Regions from separate parts of the Homo sapiens genome. Here region 2 is linked to region 1. Evidence: fine-mapped expression QTL. A gene starts in region 1. The other region holds a variant in brackets. All regions are shown on one strand. Distances are from middle to middle.

What was found.
Region 2: its variant is fine-mapped to the expression of SPOCK1 in whole blood (TOPMed, PIP above 0.99). The same link has a PIP of 0.9 or more in blood mononuclear cells.

Annotation. Positions count from the first base shown.
Region 1 is chr5:137,497,991-137,500,900 of GRCh38, reverse strand. It overlaps SPOCK1 (SPARC (osteonectin), cwcv and kazal like domains proteoglycan 1), which reads left to right and starts at 1,575. Exons shown (of 11, transcript NM_004598.4): 1 at 1,575-1,722; 2 at 2,343-2,528. The coding sequence starts at 2,343. RefSeq lists a silencer at 1,405-1,624.
Region 2 is chr5:137,562,532-137,565,441 of GRCh38, reverse strand. No RefSeq gene overlaps it. Among named protein-coding and RNA genes, the nearest start is that of SPOCK1, 65 kb to the right of the region's middle. The variant G/A (reference allele first, on the strand shown) is at 1,350.

The sequences.
Region 1 (2,910 bases):
GGTGGTTATCAAACTTTGCCATGCATAAAAAACGCCTCGGGAGCTCATTAAAAGTGCAGACTTGGAAGCTTTCCTAAGGAATGCTGACTCAGCAAGTGGGGCGGTGGGGCAGGAATCATTTTTAGGAAGTTCGCTTCTCTCTCCACCCAGGTGATTTTGATCTAGATAACCCGACGGCCTTCCTTTTGAGAATGCCTCCATGCTGGCCTGCGTCTTGGCCTCATATCCTCAGTCCCCTCTTCTGTCTCGCACCAGCCTGGGCCTGAAAGCTGATTTTAGCCCTGCATTAAGATGTGAATGACCCAGGACATAGGCGTGGGCAAGGACTTCATGTCCAAAACACCAAAAGCAATGGCAACAAAAGCCAAAATTGACAAATGGGATCTAATTAAACTAAAGAGCTTCTGCACAGCAAAAGAAACTACCATCAGAGTGAACAGGCAACCTACAACATGGGAGAAAATTTTCGCAACCTACTCATCTGACAAAGGGCTAATATCCAGAATCTACAATGAACTCAAACAAATTTACAAGAAAAAAACAAACAACCCCATCAAAAAGTGGGCGAAGGACATGAACAGACACTTCTCAAAAGAAGACATTTATGCAGCCAAAAAATACATGAAAAAATGCTCATCATCACTGGCCATCAGAGCAATGCAAATCAAAACCACTATGAGATATCATCTCACACCAGTTAGAATGGCAATCATTAAAAAGTCAGGAAACAACAGGTGCTGGAGAGGATGTGGAGAAATAGGAACACTTTTACACTGTTGGTGGGACTGTAAACTAGTTCAACCATTGTGGAAGTCAGTGTGGCGATTCCTCAGGGATCTAGAACTAGAAATACCATTTGACCCAGCCATCCCATTACTGGGTATATACCCAAAGGACTATAAATCATGCTGCTATAAAGCCACATGCACACGTATGTGTATTGCGGCATTATTCACAATAGCAAAGACTTGGAACCAACCCAAATGTCCATCAATGATAGACTGGATTAAGAAAATGTGGCACATATACACCATGGAATACTATGCAGCCATAAAAAAGGATGAGTTCATGTCCTTTGTAGGGACGTGGATGAAATTGGAAACCATCATTCTCAGTAAACTATCGCAAGAACAAAAAACCAAACACCGCATATTCTCACTCATAGGTGGGAATTGAACAATGAGATCACATGGACACAGGAAGGGGAATATCACACTCTGGGGACTGTGGTGGGGTGGGGGGAGTGGGGAGGGATAGCATTGGGAGATATACCTAATGCTAGATGACGAGTTAGTGGGTGCAGCGCACCAGCATGGCACATGTATACATATGTAACTAACCTGCACAATGTGCACATGTACCCTAAAACTTAAAGTATAATTAAAAAAAAAAATAGAAGTAAATTAAAAAAAAAAAAAAAAAAAAAAAAGATGTGAATGACCACGTTCCGGGCTGGGGCGGCCGGGCTGTCGGGCAGGCAGCGCGCGGCCACCAGGGGGCGCCAGAGCCTTGGCTCGCGCGCTCGGCCTCCTCCGCCCGCGGACGCCGCGCCCGAGCCAGCGAGCGAGCAGAGCACATCGCTGCGGGCTCACAAAGCGGCCAGACGCTCGGCGGCGGCGTGTGGCAGGAGCGCAGGGGCGCGAGCCGGCGATCAGCCTTCCCGGCGACCGTGCCGCGGGAGCTCGAGCAACTCGGACTAGGGGACCCGGGCCGGCCCCCAAGGTACGTGCCCAGAGGAACCCCGCGCCCCAACTTGGAGTAGTTGGGACCTCCCCGCGGCCGCCTAGGGGGCTGGCAGGGTCAGGGCCTGGGGTTACCTCCGCGCGCCTTTCTTACCCCCGAGACCTCAGGGCGCTCAAGGGAGACCTTTCCCTTAGCTGTCGCCGGGGACCCCCAGCTGCTGGCAGCCCCCACCCCGCTTGCCGGAGCTCGGGTGCTGCTGGAGCCCTGTTCTCCCCTCTCCTGCCCCAAAGCCGTGTGCACCGCACCGTCTGTGGGAGTGCGGCGTGCGGACCCGGGCTCCCCGCTTCTGGGGAGGGGTACCAAGCCCCTGATAGGAGGGCGGCATCTGTGGGGCACTCGGAGAATAGACGAGACGGGTCCCCTGTAGTTGGACGGCAGCCTCGGATTCGTGACGCAGCCTCCTCGTTCGTAGATGAGTCCCCCATTCGTGAGAGGGGTCCCTGGGTCTAGAGGCGCGACAGGCGCCCCAGGTGCGCGAGCGCTGCCCGTGCCCGCCGCGGGGTCCCCGCCTCCGGGCTGGGGCGCTGGGACGCCTGGGTGCCCGGGGCTCGCGGCCGCCCGCCCTCTTCGCTCATCGCCCTGCGCGCCCTGCCCCGCAGATGCCGGCGATCGCGGTGTTGGCGGCGGCCGCCGCGGCGTGGTGCTTCCTCCAAGTCGAGAGCCGGCACCTGGACGCGCTCGCCGGAGGCGCGGGCCCCAACCACGGCAATTTCCTAGACAATGACCAGTGGCTGAGCACCGTCTCCCAGTACGACCGGGACAAGTACTGGAACCGCTTTCGAGACGTGAGTACCGGCGCCACCCGGCCCTGGGGGGCGCGGAGCCTCTCGGAGGGGACCCCTGAAGCGGGGTTGGGGTGTGTGTGTGTGTGTGTGTGTGTGTGTGTGTGTGGTTGGGAGGGGGACAGGTGGGCATCTCCCGCGGGGGCTGGTCGGTCCCAGCTTCCTGGGTGCGGTCTTGCCTGAAAGGAACTTTAAAGAGAACTTCGAAGGCTCCATGCGCTTGCCTGTTACCTGTGGCCCAGGTGTGTGTATTCGTAGGGCTGCGGGAGGTGACTGCACTAAAATACAGCACAGATCACCAGTAGCTGTGGAGAAAGAGGTTCTCTGAGCTTCCGACTTCTCCTAACCGTGATGGTAGACTTTCCCTAGCTCCGGAGAAAACCTC
Region 2 (2,910 bases), 65 kb before region 1:
AGCTCTTCTGCTAGTGGGAGAGAGACCATGAAACAAGATTGTCAAAGTTGAAGGGTTTGGGCCCCTACCTAGTTCAGGGGGCTTCAGGGAAGGCTTCCAGAGGAAATGCTATCTAGGGTGAATAATGAGTATGCACTAGCCAGGTGAAATGAGGGGTGAGAGAAGAGTGCCCGGAGAAAAAGGAAGAACAGACAGTTCTAGAGGTGAGAGAATGGGGCTTGTGCAAGAGTGAGGGTAGGCTGGGTGCGGAGGCTCACGCCTGTAATCCCAGCACTTTGGGAGGCCAAGGCAGGTGGGTTATCTGAGGTCAGTAGTTTGAGACCAGCCTGACCAACATGGTGAAACCCTGTCTCTATTAAAAATACAAAAAAATTAGCCGGGCATGGTGGCGGGAGCCTGTAATCCCAGCTACTCGGGAGGCTGAGGCAGAAGAATTGCTTGAACCTGGGAGGCAGAGGTTGCAGTGAGCCAAGATTATGCCACTGCATTCCAACCTGGGTGGCAGAGCAAGACTGTCTCAAAAAAAAAAAATGTAAAGAGGGATTCAGTGTGGCTGCAGCATGGGTGCAGGGTGAGGTGAGGAAACTTTGTAAGATTTCCACTTTCCTTGCTCTCCTGGAGAATGTGTGGGGGCGTCCTGAGTAGTCTTGGTGGCAATTGTCCAGTGCAGTCATCCTGAGCACACTAAGTCCTATTCACAGCAAACTAAGATGTACTTCTCAGCCCACTGCACTCACAGGTCAAGTAACAAGACAGAGCAAAACATTCAGTACTGCTCTAAACAGCCATTGTTTGTCATTCTATGTGCTCCATCTGTAAAGGCCTCCTGCAACTGGGGCAGCAAAGAGGCGGCTCCCTTGTGCAGACGTTCCCCAGCCGCCCCAGCAGCCCAAAGATGTCAGGCAATATAACAATGTCAGGCAATACGGCCTATATGAGGGGGGTGTGACACTGCTGATGTCAGAAGTCACAGGAAGTAATTATTGCAAACTCTTAGAGCATACTTACTGCTAAGAAGCCTTTGTATGGATGTCCTGAGCCCTGCACCCATGAATTGACGTAACTGTAACGACAAGGGACGGCTTTTTGTCATTTAACGAAAGGAATGGGGGATAGCAGAGATATATCGGCTGCAGTGACCTTTCACGGTAAGCAGAGAAATGCCAGTGTTGAAACAATTATCTCAAGTGCCCGCGGGTACCAGCTTCCTGTTGATAACATGTGGTGCTAATTACATTGAAGAATTTAGGGCAGATATTGTGTCTAGAATTAATTGGCCTGCAGAAAGGCTGAGCCTGGCTCAGGACCAGAAGCAAAGATGTCAGCCTCTTTCAGCGCCAAATGTGTGG[G/A]GCAGCTTCGCCTTCTGGCTTCCTCCTCTCGTGACTTGGGATGAGGTTCCTCTCTCCTCCAGTCACTGTGCTTTATTGCACTCTCTTAACCTTTTCAGTGAACCAAAAATTTGACTGGTCAACCACTCACCCCTTCTTCTGTTTATAGTCTTCCAGACCTGCAGGGGAGGAATCAGTGGCCAGTTAATCAAAATACTCTGTGTGGAAAAGGTCAGCATGGTGGGGTCCCTGCAATATATTTCCCTAGAATGGGAGGTGTTAGCATTCTGCCTCTGCATGCCTTTCCGTATTACCCAAGTCGAACCCTGTAGTCAGGAAATTGCATCAGTCTTGTGGGTTCCTGATGGCTATGATTTTAATGAGAGAGGAACGGTGCCAAGTCTGATCAAGTTGTTCTTTCCTCCTACTGGACCACTGTTATTGGGAAAGGTGGGCAGTGGTGCTGGGAGATGCTCAATGATTTCCCTGCTGTGAGCACCCAGTCCCTCCTCTGGACTCTCTTCTTTCATAACAGCTAATTACAAGTGTAAGTGCTGATGACAATATTAATTAGCCTTCAGCTGGGCTGCTTTGCGCCAGGCCCTGTGCCAAGCATTTCACATGCATTGTCTCAGGGAATCTCTGTTACAGCCTTGTGAGTTTATTATGCTTCTTTGTGAGACAGGGAAACAGAAGCCCAGAAAGTGTAACTAACATGCTCAGGCCACCCAGCTAGTAAGCAGGAGCCAGGACTTGAACTCAGAGTTTGACTCCAGAGTCACTTTGTTTCAGTCGCCTATCCCCACCAGATCCTGAATTCCATAAGGACAGGGATGGCGGCATGCTGTTTTGTTCGCCCTGTGCCTTCGCTCCTAATATAAGCCAAATACAAAGGGTGGGGGTGCTCACAAGGCACTTGCTAAGTAAATAAATGAACTTAACACCCAAACCTTGTATGAGTGTGAGAGCAGGAGAAGCAGTCTGGAATCAGGTTCACACTCTTTCACCCGCTTTTGTGTGTTTTACAGATAGGGTCTGGAGGGATGGCGTGAGGGCCCAGGCATAGTGCTGGTGAGTGGTTTGCTGTTCTTAAAGAATCCAGTGGGCTGGGAGTGGTGGTTCACGCCTGTAATCCCAGCACTTTGGGAGGCCAAGGCGGGCGGATCATGAGGTCAGGGATTTGAGACCAGCCTGGCCAACATGGTGAAACCCTGTCTCTATTAAAAATACATAAATTAGCCGGGTGTGGTGGCACGCACCTGTAGTCCCAGCTACTTGGGAGGCTGACACAGGAGAATCGCTTGAACCCAGGAGGCAGAGGTTGCAGTGAGTCTAGACTGTGCCATTGCATGCTAGCCTGGGCCATAGAACAAGACTCCATCTCAAAAAAAAAAAAAGAAAAAAAAGAAAAATCCAGTGAAAGCTGCTGTGGTTGTCAAGGTAAACTCACTTCTGAGAAATAAAGACATTGTTGCCATTGAAGGTAATTGTGGGCCATTTGGTATCATTTTTTATTTTCCCAAATCTTTAGCATTGAAAACTCTAATCCGTAATAGTCAGCTAACTGAAAATAGAAGAAAAC